4 separate regions of the Homo sapiens genome follow, and all the other regions are linked to region 1. The links come from fine-mapping of genetic effects on gene expression. A gene starts in region 1. Each other region holds a variant in brackets. All regions are shown on one strand. Distances are from middle to middle.

What was found. PIP is the estimated chance that this variant, and not a neighbour inherited with it, causes the effect. A credible set is the group of variants that fine-mapping cannot tell apart.
Region 2: its variant is the best candidate, but not a certain one, in a credible set for the expression of TTC17 in whole blood (TOPMed, PIP 0.80).
Region 3: its variant is the best candidate, but not a certain one, in a credible set for the expression of TTC17 in whole blood (INTERVAL, PIP 0.50).
Region 4: its variant is the best candidate, but not a certain one, in a credible set for the expression of TTC17 in esophagus muscle (GTEx, PIP 0.56).

The regions. Positions count from the first base shown.
Region 1 is chr11:43,356,636-43,361,790 of GRCh38, reverse strand. It overlaps TTC17 (tetratricopeptide repeat domain 17), which reads right to left and starts at 2,871. Exons shown (of 24, transcript NM_018259.6): 1 at 2,678-2,871. The coding sequence starts at 2,836. RefSeq lists a silencer at 2,533-2,612 and an enhancer at 2,743-3,012.
Region 2 is chr11:43,461,651-43,466,805 of GRCh38, reverse strand. All of the region lies in intron 21 of TTC17 (tetratricopeptide repeat domain 17), which reads right to left. It also overlaps the pseudogene PPIAP41. Among named protein-coding and RNA genes, the nearest start is that of MIR670, 95 kb to the left of the region's middle. The variant T/A (reference allele first, on the strand shown) is at 2,313.
Region 3 is chr11:43,403,653-43,408,807 of GRCh38, reverse strand. It overlaps TTC17 (tetratricopeptide repeat domain 17), which reads right to left. Exons shown (of 24, transcript NM_018259.6): 11 at 4,664-4,810; 12 at 3,179-3,294; 13 at 2,857-3,022; 14 at 1,593-1,670; 15 at 1,231-1,455. Among named protein-coding and RNA genes, the nearest start is that of TTC17, 47 kb to the right of the region's middle. The variant C/T (reference allele first, on the strand shown) is at 3,090.
Region 4 is chr11:43,481,102-43,486,256 of GRCh38, reverse strand. All of the region lies in intron 21 of TTC17 (tetratricopeptide repeat domain 17), which reads right to left. Among named protein-coding and RNA genes, the nearest start is that of MIR670, 76 kb to the left of the region's middle. The variant A/C (reference allele first, on the strand shown) is at 2,100.

The sequences.
Region 1 (5,155 bases):
GGTCACTTTAAAACTGAAATCACACTTATGCTCTCATTCAAATATTGTAACCAAGAATAAGCAGCAAGAATTTGGTATGTCAGGACAAAGTATACAGATGGTCCCCACCTTTCGATGGTTCAACTTATAATTTCTTGACTTTACAATGCTGCAAAAGTGACATGCATTTGGTAGCAACTGTACTGAGTGCCCATATAACCATTCTGTTTTTCACTTTCAGTGAAGTATTCATGAATTACATGAGGTATTTTGATACTTTATTGTAAAAGATGCTGTTAGATGATTTTGCCCAAATTTGGCTAATGTAAGTATTGTGAGCACGTTTAAGGTAGGTTAGGCTAAGCTACAATGTTTGGTAGGTACATTAAATGCATTTTTGACTTACAGTATTTTCGACTTACAATGAGTTTATCAGCACATAACCCCTTCATAAGCTGAGGAGCATCTGTATATACTAAGCTTTTAATTATGTTTCTGAATGTACAAATCTGCAATATATATGGATTTCATACACTAATGTGATCTTTCAAGTCCTTAAGTACAGTATATACAAATATTATAATTAATCACGATCTAAATTGATAGTTTGGATTCTACCTGCATACAAATTATGGCCAGGAAGGGAAGCATGGGTCATGCACAATCAGCTATCAGAGTGGAACTCGGCAGCTCACCACAGCACCCAATTCTTTTACTTTATTTATATGTGGTGCCTTTTCTTCAGATTAAATCCAACTTTCCTCCCCTGGCCTCTTATTGTTACACTGCAGACACCAACCTTATTTCTTCTGGCATAAAATCTTGTGGCTGCCTGAACATAACATTGTAAATGTTATGTATAGCAAAGTATTGGAAAATTCAATGAAAAGGATCACTTAAAAAGTCATGTAATAGAGAAATCTTGCTTTTTAAACTTTAAGCCTAATTACTTAGCTCAGCAGTGACTTGGCAGAGATCCAAAAGATTCTTCAGCTCTTCCCTGCTTCTCTGAGGCAAGTTTCCAGTAACCCCTGCCTTCCCCCATTAATACATATGTATCCAAAGTGCAAAAAGAAGGAATTTGTTAAAAAAAAAAAAAAAATCAGACTCTACTTTCCCATTGCAATGTTAAGTATATACATAAAACATTTCTACCAGCTTTCACTTTTTAGATGGGCTACTTTTTCAGCTGAGTGGTAGGACACCAAAATGGGAAGGAGAAGTCAATGTCATAGAGTATAAATAGCTGTGGCCAAAAACAATATTGCAGAAGAGCCAACAGGAGAAAGGCTCCCCAAAATGCAGCAGGAGTGACTTAATTCCACGTCTTCATAGAGACCTCAGGGAAAACCACTATCAAGAAACAAAAGAAGGGTGGAAGCAACCAGCACTCACATATGGTCTTACAGTGTTTTCTTGGGTTTCTGAAACACATACACATATATTTAAAGTCTCAGATAGTATGGCAATGAAAAGGAAACTGTTCTTTATGTATGTCATATAGAAAACGTTACCCAATAGGAACACGGTCTTTTCTTAGATATGCTGAAAACCACTCATGAATACCTAGGCGGATTTTTAGTTATACTTAACTTACTTGAGATAGAATTTGCAATTACATTACACGGCAAATCTAAATCTAAACCTCACCTTAAACGTTGGAATGTGTTCCTATCATGATTCATTACACACAATCCAAAGGACCAGTAATTTCCCACCACACTAGTTAAAACGTTTTAGATCAGTGGGCTAAATTGCATGGGGCACACAATTCACTTTCTAAATGTTTGCTAGACACTTCAAGATTGTCCTCAAGTGTTCGAAGTCAGTAAGTTTACCAATATTCTGTAGCGGAACACACACACGCACTCGTTAGGCATCAGCAGCATTTACAAAACGCAGGCAATCATAAAGTTATATAAGAAAAGCAGTCTCGCCTCTGAGGAATTAGTTCAGGCATACAAGAATCCAGGAAATCGCATATCCTCCATGCGAGGCTGGGTCACAAGAACTAGGTAAAGAAACAAAGCAAAGTGCACTGGGAAACGAGGGCAGTAACAGCTGAAAAGATGCAGGCAACGCCACCAGCGGCATCTTCAAGCATTCCTTCTGAAGGGGAGTGTTTCTATGTTGTTTCTAATGAGCCACTGCTGACCTGAGTAACGGTACAAGCTGAAACCAACACAACCAGAAACGAAATCCACCATGTGGTAGACGAGACTAGGGGAGCAGCACGAATGGTCCACAGGCTAGGGGTCCAGAAGCTGTCATACCATGGGACTCGCGCACACCCTGGAGCTGCCACCTGCTTTCTATTTCCTCGGGGAGGGCCGGTGACGCGTGAACCCGAGAGGCACCAAAGGCAGGAATCCTGAAATCTGTGATTTCTAAACCCCGAGCTAAAAAAAGGTCCGTAGGGCCCGTCTCCCGCAGCTGGGCGACTCTTCCCCACGCGGCGCGCGGCCCGCGAGGTGGAAGGGTGAGAACTTCTAGGGGGCCAAACGAGGACCAGGAGACAAGTGGGGAGCGGGAAGTGCCTGCCTGGTCCGAATGCAGGGAGTCCGAGGTCGCGGTGCCACCTCCCTGTGAGGGTAGGCTGGGGGCGGGGCCGCGCGGAGCCCAACAGCCAGGGGCCAAGCAGGGTAATCCCCCCGGGGCGAGGGCGGGCACGGGAGAAGAGGGACGCCCCGGCCGCTACCTGCTGCTGGATTTTCCCGTCCTCCGTGACGACCCAGTGCGTGGTGGCGAAGGCCCCTCGTGCCGCCACACTCAGCAAGGCGGAAAGGCTGAGGAGCCAGCCTGGGCCGGAGCAAGGCGGCAGCTCGTACCGGCCACGAACCCCTACTGCCGCCGCCATCTTGCCCCCCCGGCCGGGCCGCTCACACCGGAAGCGGAAGCTAGTCTCCGGCGCCCGCCATCTTGAAGAGGTCGGCCCTGGAGGAGGAGCAGGAGGAGGAGCCGAGAGGGCGTAGCTCGCTGACTACCAAGTTTCCTCCACCTCGGTTTTGGCGGCCAGGAAGCGCGACCTTCGGCTACTCTCCCAGCTTGGCTTCAGGGATGGAGACCGCTTTTTAGTTATTGTTTTTCTGTGGGTGATACGATCTCGGAGCGTGGGAACCGGAGGGAGACAAAAGCAGTGGCTTAGGTGGCGCTTAAGCAGAAGTGAAAGGACTCAATTTTATTGTTTTTTAAATCTTTGTTTTTTCGTTTTATTTCTGGTAGATAGTTGGGGAACAAAAGGTGTGCTTTCGAACCACCTATGGGAAGAGAGGTGTTGCTTTTATTCTTAAAGTCTCACAATAGTGGAAGCTTCAGAATGGAGACGGTTGTTAGTTTAGGGCACCGCTGTCCAGTAGCACTATAATGCGAGCCACGTGTGGAATGTAAAATATAGAGGGAAGTAACCCTACTAGTACATTTTATTTAACTCAAAGTACACAAAATATTAATTCAATGTGGTCTGTACAAATCATTGAGATAGTTTAGTTTTTTTTTTTTTAACTAAGTCTTGGAAATCGGCATGTTACACTGACAGCTTATCTAGTCATATTTCAGGGGCTTAATACCCGCATGTGGCTAACGTACTGGTCAGCACAGGTCTAAGCTAGAGGTCTAGGTCTGGAGACCAGAAACATTGGCATCACCTGGGAGCTTTTTAGACCTGCACATTCTCGGCTCTTCTCCCTCTCCCCCGCAACCTGCTGAATCAGACTACATTTTAACAATAGCCTCAGGTGACTGGTATACATATTAAAGTTTGAGAACCACTTTCTTCTAGTGAACCAACAGGCAGGCAGGCAGGCGTCAAGCTTGGCTGCCAGCTTCTTGCTAGATATGTCATTTTAGGTCTTTCAAGATTGCCCTCTGTGTGTGTTATTTAAGGTTGGTATGCTTTTGGTTTTCTCCTTGGGAAAAGAAGGATGAGAATATTGTTTAACCACTTCTCTACACAAGTGTATGCAGGAGAGCAGTTGCTAAGTGTTTAAACACCACGCTATAGAAATGTAGAAACAACCACAGCATTGGTGTTTTTTTTTTCTTCATTCCAGGAACAGCTTTTCTTAAAGGCCTGAAGACTGAACATTCATTTCATTAAAAATATATGGCTTATTTGCTTTTTGCCTGGTACTCTGATAGTCTCTGGGTATGGAAATGTAACCATTGGGCAGTGTGCAATATAGTGAGATATTATTGGCAGGTTAACAATTAAAATACAGGATAATGGGGGTGTATGAATGCATATGTACAGGAGAGAGCAACCAACCAGGTGAAAAAAAGGTTTGGAGCTCAGGTGCTGGTTCAGGCAGAATAATAAGTGAAAAGGTGAAGTTGGCCGGGCGCGGTGGCTCACGCCTGTAATCCCAGCACTTTGGGAGGCCGAGGTGGATGGATCACTGAGGTCAGGAGTTCAAGACTGGCCTGGCCAAGATGGTGAAACCCCGCCTCTACTAAAAATACAAAAATCAGCCGGGCATGGTGGCGGGCACCTGTAATTCCAGCTACTTGGGAGGCTGAGGCAGAGAATTGCTTGAACACGGGAGGCGGGGATTGCAGTGAGCCGAGATCACACCACTGCACTCCAGCCTAAGTGACAGAGCGAGAATCCGTCTCAAGAAACGAAAAGGTGAAGTCAGTGGCATGTTTTAAGAGTTTCTTGGAGTTTAGACATAGGCAATAGGGAGTGTTTCAGAATTTTAAAATAGAGAAGTGGCAAATGATGGAATCCCTTTTGTCTCAGCATCTTATTTTTGGGGCATAGAGGTCAACCCTATTTCTTGTGTATAAAGCTGACATCATCATCATCTAACATTTCTTGAGTGTTTAATACGTACTGGGTCCTGTACATGCATAGTTCCTATTAATCGTCACAACTTACCAAGCTCTGGCTAGTTAAGTAAGTTGGCCAAGATCATATTGCTAAGTGGTAGAGCTCAGGTTTGGACTCAGATCCACCTGACTCTAGATCTGAGAGCCTGAGAATGAATGAATGTTAGTGAGGAATTTGAGAAAGGCCCCAGCATCACATATTTTGCTATCAGCAATTTCTTTGACCTTCACAAGTTAACCTCTAAAGGGGTGGAATTATAGCTTCTATAGCTTTATTATACCACCTATTTTCTGTAGATGATAACTCTTATCTTTTGGGATCCTGTATTAGTTTTCTAATGCTGTGTAA
Region 2 (5,155 bases), 110 kb before region 1:
GGCTTCCACAATATTCATGCCCTCTTTCACCCTGCCAAAGATCACATGCTTGCCATCCCACCATTTGGCCATGGCAGTGCAGATGAAAAACTGGGACTCATTTGTTTTGGGTGCAGCATTTGCCATGGACAAGATGCCAAGACCTGTATGCTTCACAATAAAGTTCTTATCATCAAATTTATCCCCGTAGATGGACTTGCCACCAATGCCATTATGGGGTGTGAAGTCATCACCCTGGCATATAAACTCCGGAATAATTCTGTGAAAGCAGGAACCAAATCCTTTGTCTTTATTGTTCAGAGTGTGAAAGTTTTCTCCTGTCTTTGGAAATTTGTCTGCAAATAGCTGAAAGGAGATGTGTCCTAAGGGCTTGCTGTTGATGGTGATGTTGAAGGGCACAGTCGGGATGACCATGGCCTAGTGACAGGGGGTGTTGGGGGACAGCAGTGTCTGCAAAGCCAGCTGCATCATTTTATATTCCCACCAACAGTGCACAGGTGTTCTAATTTCTACATCCTTGCCAATGCTTATTAATTTTATGTTTTTAATAGTGGCCATCCTAATTGGTGTGACATGATATCTCGTTGTGGTTTGATTTGCATTTTCCTGATGATTTGTGGTATTGAGCATATTTGCATATGCTTGTTGGCTGTTTGCATATCATCTTTGGAGAAATGACCATTCAAGTCCTTTGTATATTTTTTAATTGGGTTATTTTGTTTTTAATTTGTACAAGTTGTTTATATAATTTGGAAATATTAACCCTTTATTAGATGTATGACTTGCAAATATTTTCTCCTAGTCTGTAGGCTGTCTTTTCACTCTGTTAATTGTGTCCTCTGATGCCCAGAAGTTTTAAACTTTAATATAGTCCACTTTGTCTATTTTTACATTTGTTGCCTGTGCTTTTGGTGTCATATCCAAGAAATACATATATTGTCTTAATGCTTTTTTCCTCTGTTTTCTTCCAAGAGTTGTACAGTTTTAGGTCTTACACTTAGGTCTTTGGACCATTTTGAGTTAACTTTTGCCTATGATATAAGGTAAGGGTCCAACTTCATTCTTTTGCATATGAATATACAGTTTCCCTAACACCACTTTTTGAAGAGACCATCTTTTCCCCATTGAATGGTCTTGGTACCCGTGTGGAAAATTATTTGATTATATACATGAGGGTTTATTTTTGGGCTCGCCATTGTCTAATTTGATTTTATACCCATCAATTGAGTTCTTAATTTCAGTTATTGCAATTCTCAGCTCTAGAATATCCATTTGATTCTTTTTATCCCCCACAAGTTCCAATTATCTGGGGGGAAATTTCCCTTTTATTTATTTTCTCCCTGTCTTCTATTTTCTTGAACAATTATCATTGTTATTTCAAGTCCTGGTCTTAACTCCACTGCCTGAATCATCTGTGAGTATATTTCTATTGTCTGCCCTTTCTCTTGGTTTTCAATCCCATCTCTTGAATGTCTAGTATAATTTTACTAAAAGCTTGACATTGTGTCTAAGAAGTTGTAGAACCTCCATATGATGTTATCTTCTAAAGACAGCATTCATACATTCTTTAGCTTGGCAAGTAGACAATAAACTTAATTCAATAGCTGACTGAATTTGGGCTGCTATGACATTGTGTAAAGGCTACAGTTGGCAATGGTGATCTTCTTGCTGGTCTTGCCATTCCTAGAACCAAAGTTCACTTACCCTTAGTTTTGTCCCTTCTTAAAAGGCACCAATCTCCAGACTTTCCAAATGAAATCCCCAGACAGTCACCAAAAGCCTCTTGTCCTCACTGCTGGGTCTTGAACTCTAATACTAGCTTCCTAAAAATGGTTTTTCATAGCTTTCTACTTGGCTTTCTGGTCTCTTGTGCTTTGTAGCTTCAGAATTTGCCAATGTATTGTGAAGGGTACTAGGCTCACATCTCTGTCCTTCCCTTCTCAGCAGGACCTTAGCCTTTCTAGTATCCAATCTTATTTCTCTAGCCCTGCATGACTTTTAAAGGCTGTTGGTTTCTCTGCCCAGATCAGCCTCCTGTATTGTAGCAGATCATTCTCTCTTTAAAAAAAAAAGCTTGCATTTCCATTTTTTTCCTCTTTATAATTCCGTTTGACAATTTTCCATAATTTTCTGCTTTCATTTTCTTTTCTGCTGCATCTAGTCCATTTTTCTAAGATTGTTGACCTTCTTCCTTCCCTGTAAAAGCTCCTTAGAAATTAGGTTTAAAATCCCTTTATCTGTAATATAATTTGAAAATACTGTTCCCAGCTTTTCATTTTGTTCATTGCGCCTGTTTGAAATGCAAGTTTTTT[T/A]AAAAAAAGTTAGTTATTCATCTTTTTCCTTAGTGTGTATGAATTTTGAGTCTATTAGGAAATTTTCCCTACATCCAAGTTACAGGGAAATTCCCATGCATTTTATTTGTACTTGTATGAAGTCATTTTGTTACATTTATTTTAATCTCTGATCCACTTAAAATTTATCTTGGTGTGTAGTAGAAGGAATGGATGTAATTTTTTTTTTTTTTTTGAGATGGAGTCTCACTCTATCGCCCAAGCTGGAGTGCAGCAGCATGATCTCAGCTCACTGCAACCTCTGCCTCCCAGGTTCAAGCGATTCTTCTGCCCCACCCTCCCGAGTACCCGGCATTACAGGCGTGCACCACCACGCCCAGCTAATTTTTTTTTGTATTTTTAGTACAGATGGAGTTTCATCATGTTGGCCAGGCTGGTCTTGAACTCCTGACCTCAGGTGATCCACCCGCCTCAGCCTCCCAAAGTGCTGGGATTATAGGCAGGAGCCACCACGCCCCGTGGAATGGATATAATTTTATCTTTTCCCCTATTTAGCATTAAAACATACATTTCCTTTCACTGATGAGATGCTGCCTTTACAGTATTCGAAATTGCCATATGCAATTAGTCTTTTATTCTTTCCCATTGGTTTGTGCATTCATGCAGCAATATCAAACTACATTAATTAAAGGCTTCATGTATGTTTAATGTCTTCTAGGTTAAATCCTCCTCTTCTCCCACTGTTCTTTTTTTCAGTTTCTCTAATTATTCTTGATTGTTTCTTCTTTGAGATAAACTTAAACAATTATTAATAGCTTGCCTGGCACCAGAAAATAACATGGCATTTTTATTGTTATTGCATTAAAATGACAAACTAACTTAAGAGAACTGATATTATATGATGCTGAGACTTCACATGCAAGAACATGGTTAAGTCTTTCCATTTGTTCAAGCCTAGTTTTGTATTTTTCAGAAGAGTTTTAAATTTTGGAGATTAAAAAAAAAATTGCCTAAGGTATTTTCTTTTAAAATTCTCTTACAACTTCTGTTTTTTTAAATTGTATATATGAAAGCTATTTATTTTTGTATGATATTTTTATTTTGTATGCTATTTTTATTTTGTAAGCTATTTTTATTTTGTATGATTTCTGGCTTAATCTGTATTGGTCAATATCCATTTCCATGCTAAGAAATTTAAATCTTTGGAAATTTGTTAAGGCCTTTTTTATGGCTCAGTCATATGTTAAGTGTTCACATATGATAAATGTTCCTTCCTTGTGCATGTAAAAGAATGAATTTTGGGCCGGGCACGGTGGCTTACAGCTGTAATCCCAGCAATTTGTGAGGCTGAGGCGGGTGGATCATGAGGTCAGGAGTTTGAGACCAGCCTGGCCAATATGGTGAAACCCCGTCTCTATTAAAACATACAAAAATTCCTGGGTGTGGTGGCGCACGCCTGTAGTCCCAGCTACTTGGGAGGCTGAGGCAGGAGAATCACTTGAACCTGGGAGGCAGAGGTTGCAGTGAGCCAAGATAGCACCACTGCACTTCAGCCTGGGCAATAGAGTGAGACTCTGTCTCAAAAAAAAAAAAGAATTTTGTCACTGCTGGATTCAGTGCTTACATATGGCAGCTAGGTTCAGTTTGTAATTGTGGTGTTTTTGGTCTGCTACAATAATAACTGCTATCAGTTATTATAATTTTATTCAAATCTACTTTGATTGGGAATATGTCTATTTCTTCTGCCAGTTATGTCAATGTTTACCTTATATATTTTAGATTATGTTCTTTGGTGCATACAGTTTACAGAACATACCTACCTTGTGAATTAAATCTATATTACTTTCCTATAGCTACTGTGACAAATTAACACATACTTGGTGGTTTAAAACAATAAAAATCTATTCCTTCACAGCTCTTAAGGCAGGAGGTCCAAAATCAATATCATTGGGTCAAAGTCAATGTGTCAGCAGGGCTGTGCTCCCTTCAGAGGATCTAGAGAATCTGTTACTTCCCTCTTCTGGTTTCTCGTGGCTGCTGGCATTCCTTGGCTTGTGGCTGCATAACTCTGCCTCTATTGTCACACAGCCTTCTACTCTTCAGGATTAAGTCTCTGTCTCCTTCTTTATAAGAATACATGTGATTGGCTTTAGGACCCAACTGGATAATCCAGGATAATCGCTCCATCTCCAGATCCTCAATTTTATCTGCAAAGTCCTCTTCTTTCCATACTGTGTATGTATATAGTTTTCACAGGTTCCAGGGATTAGAACGTGGATATCTTTGTAGGGGGGCACTATTCAGCCTGCCACAGATCCCTTTAGTGTTATAAAATATTCCACTTTAACTCCAGTAATGCTTCTTATTATAAAGTTTACTTTTTCTGACAAGGGTATAGTTATATAGCCGTTTTTTTTTTTTTTTTAATCTAGCCTACATTTAATTCTTAAGTTACACAGTCTTCCTCCATGTAACTACTGATGTGCTTGGGTCTATATTCGCCATTGTACTATTTGTGCTCTACTTTTATGTACCTTTATCTTCCCTTGACTTCCTTTGGATTAATCAAATGTTCTACATGATTCCATTTTCCTTCTATTAAGTTACATTTAAAAATAATTTTTAGTTGTTAGCCTAGAGTTTAAAACATGCTTTTTTACTTATTAAGGCCAATGCAAATTATTACTTTTACTACTTGGCTGATACCAATTAAGCCTTAGGACTTTTAAACTCTATTTGCTTCCCTCTCATCATTTAAGTTATTGCTACCATGAATTTTAGATATACAGTACATAAAATTGAAACTCCTCAGGGTGTACCATTATTATTTTGTACAGTTACTATTCATTTACATATGTTTCCCA
Region 3 (5,155 bases), 47 kb before region 1:
ACCACGCCACTGCACTCCAGCCTGGGCAACAGAGCAAGAACCTGTCTCAAAGAAAAAAAAAAGGTATATTTTTGGGGTACCCACCCTGATCCATTAATTTATCTTTTTATTCTTATTGTAGCACCATGGTATTTAACAACTAAAATTTTAGTATGATTTTAAAATATCAAAAGGTAACTGATCACTAAAGGAGGTCTTTTTTCTTCAGAAGAATACTACCTAAGTCCCTTGGCTGAAAACAGTAAAAAGGGAATCATGAAAAGTTTCAAGGGAATACGGCTGCATTGCGCTTTCCATTGCCCACTTTATCACATCTGTTCCCACTGTACCAGCACCTGGTACACAGTAAGCACTAGATAAATATTTGATGTACTTCTCTGGCAATGTGACCTGTTACATAATATTGAGATTGTAAACTTCTGCTTAAAATCCAGTTGTGAATTTCTGTATTTCAAAAGAAAACAGGCAATATTTTCTTCTCATCCTTAAAAAATCAGTTTTCAGACACCATAAATAAACCTCAACCATTCATGCACATCCCTTCTGAAGGTTTCTTTGAATACAAAACCTATAAACATTTAGACATTAGGTATAAAATCAATTTAATTGTATATTTATTATAACTGAATTTCATGAAACCTAAAATGACAGCAATTATAACATCCATCCTGATATCAGAGATGTTAAAATATGAAAAACCAAAGTTGTATCTTCAAAACCATGAACTACAAAGCACTGATGTAACTCCATAAGCTGCATGTGAGAGGTTTGGGGCATGAAAATCAATGTATCTATTTATTCTTATCAAAACCACCTTTGAACTGTCCTCTGGCTTGAAGGGTATAAATATTTCTATAAATTAAAGTTGTAAAACAGTGTAATATTAAGCAGTGTGCATGCTGTGATGAGTAGGATAAAATACAAACCAGATGTTTCAGACAGACATAAAAAAGCGGCAGTATATTTTTACAGCTTATGTTATTCTTATTTAAATGTAAGTTTCCAAAAAAAAAAAAACTTAACTGTGTAATTATAAATTTCACTCAAAATTTAAAGAACACATCAAAATACAACAAAAGCTTTTTCACACTCTCTTGAAATAATGCAAACGCTACTGTGAAAGACAAAACATGACATTTTTTATGCTTTCCCTAGAAAAATACAAATTGTAATCTAAATTTGAGTTACCCTACATAGTATACGGAACTATGAAATCCCTTAAAACCTCACCTCAGAGCTATTGATGGCCAAAGCTTGAAGTAGCAGCTTAGTGGCATCAAGATGAAGGCCGTAATGAATCAAAAGGTTGGCCAAGTTGACAAGAGGAACATCTTGGTATTGAAGTGGAGCTAAATTCAAAGCCCTCTGAAGACAGGCAATAGCAAAAGTGCTATTTCCTACTGCTCTCCAGTATAGTCCAGCTTCATTGAGTATGAGCCAGATAGGAGCATTTGGCTGAAAAATCCAAAAATACTTCAGTTAGTACAAGAATACAGTACTTGTTCTAAATAAGATTTTTAATAAGTGCATTTTAACTTTTACTTATAATTAAGAAGCATTTAAGTTTTAGATGTCTAAAGTAAATGACTCACCTTATTAATAGCATGAAATAAGAAAGACCCAATTTCTTCTTCTGGGATAGTATAGTTATTAATACGGGAAAGCAAAATCTGAAACATCAAAAGGAAGACTGACTCAATTGAAAATAACAGGGAAGACATTTGAAAAGAATTTCTATAGATGGCAGTCTTTTCTTAAGCTCCTCAGGAACAGCTAATTTGAACAAATATTTATGATCATATATATGACATAAATTCATTCACATACCAACAGGTGTTGACCTGCTCACATGTATGTAATAGTTTAACTAAAAAGTTAAAAAGACATATATACCCCCACACATTAAAGTAACCTACCATACCCCATTAAAGTCAGCCTAAGTGTTCAGAACCCAAGAAGAAATTATTCAAAAGACAACAGCATGCAATATCTGATGTAATAAAAATCTACTGTCTTTCCTTCCTGGAAAATACCAGATACTCAATTATTCTACTTCATGTTCCTGCAGCATTTATATAACGGTAAACAACTCTAAGGCACAGATCATGGTCTGTTTATCTTTTTGTATTCCTAGCATCCAAAACAATGTCTGGCACATAATGTTTTTTGCCTAAGGAAATGTCTATTGAATATAAGTAACAGTAAGTGCCTATAGTTTTGAAATTAACTTAAAAAAAAAAAGGTGGTTGTGATGGTCTGTGATTGCTAAAAAGGTAATTTTTTTTTTCATTTTTATCTATGGAATGATATCTAATATGGTAATATACAGTAATAAAACACTCGTAGTTATATATAATTAATAGGAATTTAGGAAAAGAGCATAATTGAACTTCTAATGTTTGCAGAGTCATTATCAAATTAATATAAATTCCTATGGACCTCATATAAGGTCACAGCAGGGTTGATAAGGCCAGAGAGAGATTCTTCAAGCTTTCAATTTATATACACTTCTGGAGGCCTGGAGGATGCAAAGCTAACTTTTAGTGGTTGCAATGGCCTGCATTACACCAACTCCATTAGATAACAGAGAGTTCTGTGCTACTCATCTTTGAAGTGCTCTGCGTTAGAGGAATAGTGTTTAGGTGATCTACGTATAGCAGCCCCGAGGAACTCTCTGGCACTCCTTTAATAGCATGACTGACTTCGCCATCATTTCACCAATTCTTTAACTCTATCCTTCCATTTTATACACTTAAAGCTCAACAGCTACCTTCTATCAATTTTTTGTTCCATTTAAGAGGCTTCTGAAGTCACCCAGAATGGACGGCAATAAATACCAGCCTAAGTGAGCCTTACTTTTCGTGCATGGTCATCTGGCATTTTGGCTTTCAGATCCATGCGAACCTCTAATTCTTTGACTAAGTAGGACAGAGTGTGGCTTTTTCTGAAGTCAGTTATGGAACAGTCAGGGGTTTGGGCCTCTTCTTCTGTAGAATAATCATCACTGCTGAGTTCGTGGATCCTGGCACAAGAAAAAGGAACAAGATTCATATTTTCAAAGTTTGGGTGACTTCAAGATAAAGACTTAA[C/T]TTTTCAAGTCCAAGGCTGGTGCTCTCAAAGAACCGCTAGATGACAATCATGCAGAATCAGGTGCTTTGCCAAATCCATCACCACTTGCCTGAGTCCTTTGTTTTCCGGAGGCAGAAAATACGTTGGCAATTCCCCACCAACAGGGACTCTAGGGTAGCTTTCTGTACAATCTGCTCTTTTAGGCCATAGAATATGCTGTTTGTCCTGATAAAGAAACAAAATTTCTCATAAATTTCTTTGGATTCAATATTTCAATATGCTAAATAAACTTTTAAAATGATATACTACAATAATTGAACAAAACTATAATATCTTAAGATTATGGTAGACTCTATAATATTCCTGCTACTGCAGATTATTAATCTAAGTCAGTAATTCTACCTGCTTTACCACAGACTGGTTCAGGGTTGGGCGGGTATAAGCCAGTTGAGCCAGTGAGACACAAGAAGAGGCTTGCTTGGGGCTTTTCGGAAAGAGAAGCAAGTCTTAGGCTCTTACGTTACATATGAACAAAAAATCATGTTGTTCCAGTTGCTGCTGGCTGTCATGACCATGAAAAAAACCAAGCTTTTGGATGAAACCAATACTGTGGATGGCAGAGTGAAGAAAAAAAAAAAAAAAAAGAAAAAGAAGAAATGGGTCACTGATGACATCACTGGGCCACTGAATCAACCAAACCTGAAGTTTATCCTATTTCTGGACTTCCTGTAGTAACAGGCACATTTTCTTTGTATTTAATTTGAGGTGGAGCTTATGACTTGTACCTGAAAGCATACATAAGCCTATAAAACCTGGCATTGAACACTACTTTTCCCTGAACTAAGGTCTTTTCTTTGCCAATGCCAAAGTTTAACAATTGTTTTATGATTTGTAAAATGTTAATTTTCTCTAAAAATAAATAAGATGTACCAGAGGCTTACTAAACTTAAATCTTCAAGCTATCAAACTTTGAGGGATTTATATTAAATATAATTAAATCTAAGTGGCTGTTTAATTCTGTTAAACCCTTGATTAAATTCTGAAAATTTAATGGTGAATAAAAAGCACACAGTCTCTGTCCTCATACCTTGGTATCCGCCTCAGCTAACCTACAATTCTTTCTTAGCTAGTCTAGACAGGCACATGTACTAACTTGTTTATTGTCTGTATCATCTACCAGAATGTAGGCTCCAGAAGAGCAAGGGGGCTTATCTATTATACTGCCAGCATTAGCCTGGCACACAGGTGGGAGTTCAATAAAAGAATGCCGATTAAGTGAAGTATATAAAAACATACGCTTGGGTCAAGTTTAGAAACTTGTTAAGGTTGGTAATAATACTCAGAGGATAAAGCTTTGAACTGAAATCAGGGTGTCTATCTGCTCTACTTGACTGGGAAAAACTCAAGGCAGAAATTGCATCTTACTCATTCACTACCTAGCAGAATAGCTTCCATTTAATAGAAATGTACTACACGTTTGCTGAACTAATCTGAACAGTCATAGAGGCCATATTAATCAGTGAGGTTGAGGGCCACTGCTTTAATGGATCTTGCCAGTTTGAGAAAACTGCTTCGTCATCCTCTATTAACTTACCCTATATGCATCAGAGTCCCTGCCCCAAATCCAGAGAATAGAATGGGCTACGGGAGAAGACTTGACCGAATCATTGATATCACTCTGATTTGATTGAACATCAAAGTTCACAGACATCATACTGGAGGTTGATGAATCCTCACCAAACTAGAAAATGAAACAAAAAGTTCAATCAAATTGAAAGTGGAAAAGGAGTTGTGATTATAATTTAACTCACACCAAAAAAGCGAGTGAATATTCAAAATTAGTAGAAAATCAGAAAGTAGCTCAGTAATAAAGCAATTGGATCTTTTAAGAACTATGCCCCAACGATATTCTTTCATGGATAATACATAGTTAACAACTTTCAATAACTTTGCCATTGGAGTATGAGAAAAATGGCATAGGTCGTTTTCCTGTCCCTTTGCTTCATTTTTATGATTTAGTCTCTTTAGGTTAATAATTAGCTAATTGAGAAATCTGGTTCATTATTCCCCTTTTCTTCCTACACTA
Region 4 (5,155 bases), 120 kb before region 1:
CTTATATTTATTTTTGGAATTTTCCATTTAATATTTTTGGACCATAATAGACTGTGGATAACTGAAACCGTGGAAAATGAAGCTGCAAATAAGGGGGGGACTATGGCGTATTGTATGCAGACTTGACAAACTTGGGGCTTTTTATTCAACATTATATTTCTAAGATTCATTCATGTTGTGTTTATTCAGTTTCCTTGCTGCACAATTAAATGCTCATTAAGTTGAATATACTACATGGTATTTATCCATTTTCTGTAGATGGGCATTTAGATTGCTTCCTGGTTGTCTCCTGTTATAGTCTAGAGTAGATACCAAGGAGTAGAATTTCTGGGCCACGGGATATGCATATGTTCAAAAAAAAAAAAAAAAAAAACAAAAAACCAAGAGATTGCCAAATTGTTTCCCAAAGGTGCCATGCCAACATACAACCCCATTCACATTGTTTAAAAGGACCTCTTGATCCATGTCCTTCCTAACCCTAGGTACTGTTGGTGAGGGGAAAATGGCATCTTCCTGTGGTATTACTTTGCATTTCCTGATCACTAGTGAGATTGAGAATTGTTTCTCATATTTATTCATCACACATATCACTTCTGTGAAATGCCTGTTAATATCTTTAATGCATTTTTCTATTTTATTACTTTTCATCAATTTATATGTTTTGTATATTAATCTTTTGTAGATTAAATGTGTTGCACATGTTTTCTCCCTGGCCTGCCTTTCTTTAATTAAAACAATTAAACTTTAATATACTTTAATTCATTAACATTTTCTTTTATAGTTATTTTGTGTCTCCTTTAAGAAGAAAACTTTCCTTACTCCATAGCCAGAAAGGTCATCTCCTACATTTTACTCTAAGTTTTAACATTTTGTTTTTGATACTTGAGCCCTTAATTCATGTGGAATTGAATTTTTGTGTAAGATATGAAGATTGAAATTAAGTAAGCAATTGCCCCAGTACAGTTCCTGAATAGTCCCTTCTCTTCCCACCAATTTTCAATATTACTTTTTTAATATATCACAGTTCTGTATGTTAGAGCAGAGGTCCCCAACCTTTTTGGCACCAGGGACCAGTTTCATGGAAGACAAATTTACCATGGATGGGGTAGGGGGTGGTTTTGGGATGATTCGAGTGCATTACATTTATCGTGCACTTTATTTCTATTATTATTACACTGTGAAATAATTATACAACTCACCATAATGTAGAATCAGTGGGAGCCCTGAGCTTGTTTTCCTGCAACTAGATGGTCCCATCTGGGAGTGATGGGAGACAGTGACAGATCATCAGGCATTAGATTCTCATAAGGAACTTCCGTGCAACCTAGATCCCTCGCATGTACAGCTCAGGCAGTAATGCGAGCGATGGGGAGTGGCTGTAAATAGAGATGAAGTTCACCTGCCACTCACCTTCTGCTGTGTAGCCCAATTCCTAACAGGCCACAGACCAGTACCCATCCGTGGCCTGGGAGTTGGACCCCTGTATTCGAGTCTATTTCTGGCCTTCCTATTTAGTCTTCCTAGCCATTTTTATTTATGCTTGAGCAAACAGCATAATGTCTTGTTTTATCAAAAAAGTAAGGCAACTCTCACTTTATTTTTCTTTTCAAGAGTGTCAGGTCTATTCTTCATGATTTACCTTTCCATATAAAGACCTGCTTTTCAAGTGCCATAAAAAAACCCTGCTGGTACTTTGATTATAATAGCATTGACTCTATAAATCAAATTGAGGAAAACTGACATGTTTATAACATGTGTCTTCTTATCCATGAACATTATATATCTATTTATTTAGATTGTTTAAAATGGTTTTTAATAGAAGTTTTATCTCTTGCTGCACGGAGGTCTTGATAACTTTTGTAAGATTTATTGAGAACTTTATATTTTTATAACGATGTATATTTTTAAAAATTACACTTTTAAATTTTGTGCTGCTGTACAGAAATGCAACTTTTTATTTATTGAGTTTACGGGAAGCCACTTTGAGAAAAATATTATTTCTAAAAAACTGTGGAGTCTTTGGGGTTTACTATACAGATAATCATATCACCTCTGAATGACATTTTGTTTTTTCTTCTTTACACTTATGCCATTAATTT[A/C]TTTCTTTCTTTTTTTGAGATGGAGTCTCGCTCTCTCGCCCAGGCTGGAGTACAGTGACACAATCTCGGCTCACTGCAACCTCCGCCTCCTGGGTTCAAGTGATTCTTCTGCCTCAGCCTCCTGAATAGCTGGGATTACAGGGCTGCACCACCACGCCTGGCTAATTTTTGCATTTTTAGTAGGGAGGAGGTTTCACTGTGTTGACCAGGCTGGTCCTGAAATCCTGATTTCAAGTGATCTGCCCACTTCGGCCTCCCAAAATGCTGGGATTACAGGCGTGAGCCACTGCGCCCAGCCTAATTTCTTTTTATTGATTTACTATACTTGCTAGGAGTTTCAGTACAAGGTTGAAAAGAAGTGGTGATAGTCTGCATTCTTTTTCTTGATTTCAAGTAATTATTTTTCATATTTCCTCAGTAAGAATCATCTTTGAAGTAGATGTTTTGTTGATTATTTTCACCACATTAAGGAATTTACTAAGTTTTACATTATAAATGGGTATGAATTGTATCAAATGCAATCTACTGAAATGATTTCATAGTTTTTTTCCTTTAATTTGGTGACTCAAATTTTGCGTTTTCCTAGAGTTAGACCATTTTCAGTATTTCTGGGATAAACCCAATTTGGTCAAGGTATATCTCTTTTTAAAGAAATGTGCTGCTGGATTCAGTCTGTTAACATTTTGCTTATGATTTTGATTTTGATACCTAAGTTCATGAGTGAGATTAGTGCTAACTTAAAAATTATATATGACAACATATATAAATATATATTATTTTTCTTTCTCATAATGTCTGGTTTTGTTTTAAAGTTTATACCCGTCTCAAGGAATTAACTGGTATGTCATTCCTTATTCTAATGTCTGGAAGTCTGTTTATATTAGGATGAGGTATTTCTCAAAAGTTTGTAGAATTCACACTTGCAAAATCAACAGACCTTGTTGTAATCTTTGTGAGAAGATTTTTTAAAAACTTACTACTTAATTTATTTGAGAATTATGAGATTCTTCAGGTTTTCTTTTTGTTCTTGAATCAGTTTAATACATTACATTTTTCTAAGAAATTGTCTACCTGTTTTCAAATTTATTGGCATAAAGTTGCAATTATATGCTTTTCTTATCCCTTAATTTGATATAACCATAGTTTTGTTTTGCCCTTTTTCTTGATATTGAGAATTTGTACTTTCTTTTTATCTTAATTTTGCCAAAAGTTTATTTTACTACTTGTTTCAAAGAAACAACTTTTGGATTGTTCATCTTCTCTATTATATCTTTGTTTTCTATTTCATTGATTTCTACATCTAGTAACAGAACTTAGAAATACACAAATCGAAAACTTACAGGACTAAAATAAGATACAAGCAAATTCATAATTATTAATATAGTTGAATTAGCCTCTCAATAACTTATAGAAGACCAGAAAAATCAGTAAAGAAAATATAAACAATACTATCAGGAGCTTAACCTAACTGATATTTCTAAAATGCTCTACCTAACAAAAGCAGAAGACAATATTCCTTTCTAGTGCACATGAAGCATTAACCAAGATAGGCCACATTCTGGCCCATAAAACAAGCTTGAATAAGCTGAAAAGAATTCAAATCATACAAAGTATGTTCATTTACTACAATGGAGTTAAACTAGCTATCAATTAAAGAAAGATATCTAGAAAACACCCAAATAGTTGGAAACTAAATATCATACTCCTAAATAACTCATGGGTCAAAAAAATTAGAAGGAAAATTATAAAGTACTTTGAATTGAATGAAAATGAAAATATGACAAGTTAAATTTGTCATAAATTTACAGGAAACTTTTAGCATTGAACATCTACATTAGAAAAGAAGACAGGGATCAAGTCAATAATACAAGCTTATATTAAAAGCCTAAAAAAAAAAAACTATTAAAAACCTAAAAAATGAAAAGCAAATTAAATCCTAAGCAAGCGGAAGACAAGGAAATTACAAAGATAAGAGCAGACATAAATGAAAGAGAAAACAAAAAGATGGTGGAAAGTCAGTGGATCCTCAAACTGATTATTTAAGATCAATAAAATGGCCAAGCATGGTGGCTGTAATCCCAGCACTTTGGGAGGCCGAGGTGGGTGGATCACTGGAGCTCAGGAGTTTGAGACTGACCTGGGCAACATGGTGAAACCTCATCTCTACTAAAAATACAAAAATTAGCCAGGCATGGTGGTGCAAGCCTGTAACCCCAGCTACTCAGAAGGCTGAGGCACGAGAATCACTTGAACCCAGGAGGCAGAGGCTGCACTGAGCTGAGATCGCACCACTGCACTCCAGCCTGGGCGACAGAGCGAGACTCTGTCCCCCTATTCCCCAACAACAAAAAAAATCAATAAAATTCATAAACTTCTAGCGAGTCTGATCAGAAAAAAAGAGATAAGATACAAAGTACCAATATCAGGATTAAGAGAGGGTCCATTACTACAGATCCTACAGATAGTAAAAGGATGATAAGAAAATAATATGAAGAACTTTCTGCCAATAAACAATTTAGATGAAATAAACAAATCCCTTGAAAGACACAATTACCAAAGATCACCAGAGAAGAAAGAGATAATTTGAATAGCCCTAGATCTATTAAAGATATTAGAGCTATAATTAAAAACCTCCCACAAAGAGAACTCTAGGACCAGATGGCTTCACTGGCAAATTCTATCAAATATTAAGGAATTCTCTACAGACTTTTTCAGAAAACTAAAGTGAAGGAAACACCTCCAACTCATTAAACAAGGTCATTATTATCCTGATACCAAAACTTCACAAAAACATAATAAAAAAAACCACAGACCAATATCCCTCATGAACATAAACACAGGTACAAACTGACTGACTTATGCATAATGGAGAAGAGTGTTTATGTTGACAGATTTGCAATTTCTAACTGTACATCTATCTTTCTTTTGTTTGCTTTACATATTTTGAGGGTATTTTACTGAATATGTGTAAGTTTAGAACTGGTATATCTTTCTGGTGAATGAAACATTTTATCATTATGTAGTCATTCTCTCTACTCCTAATAATTATTGTTTTG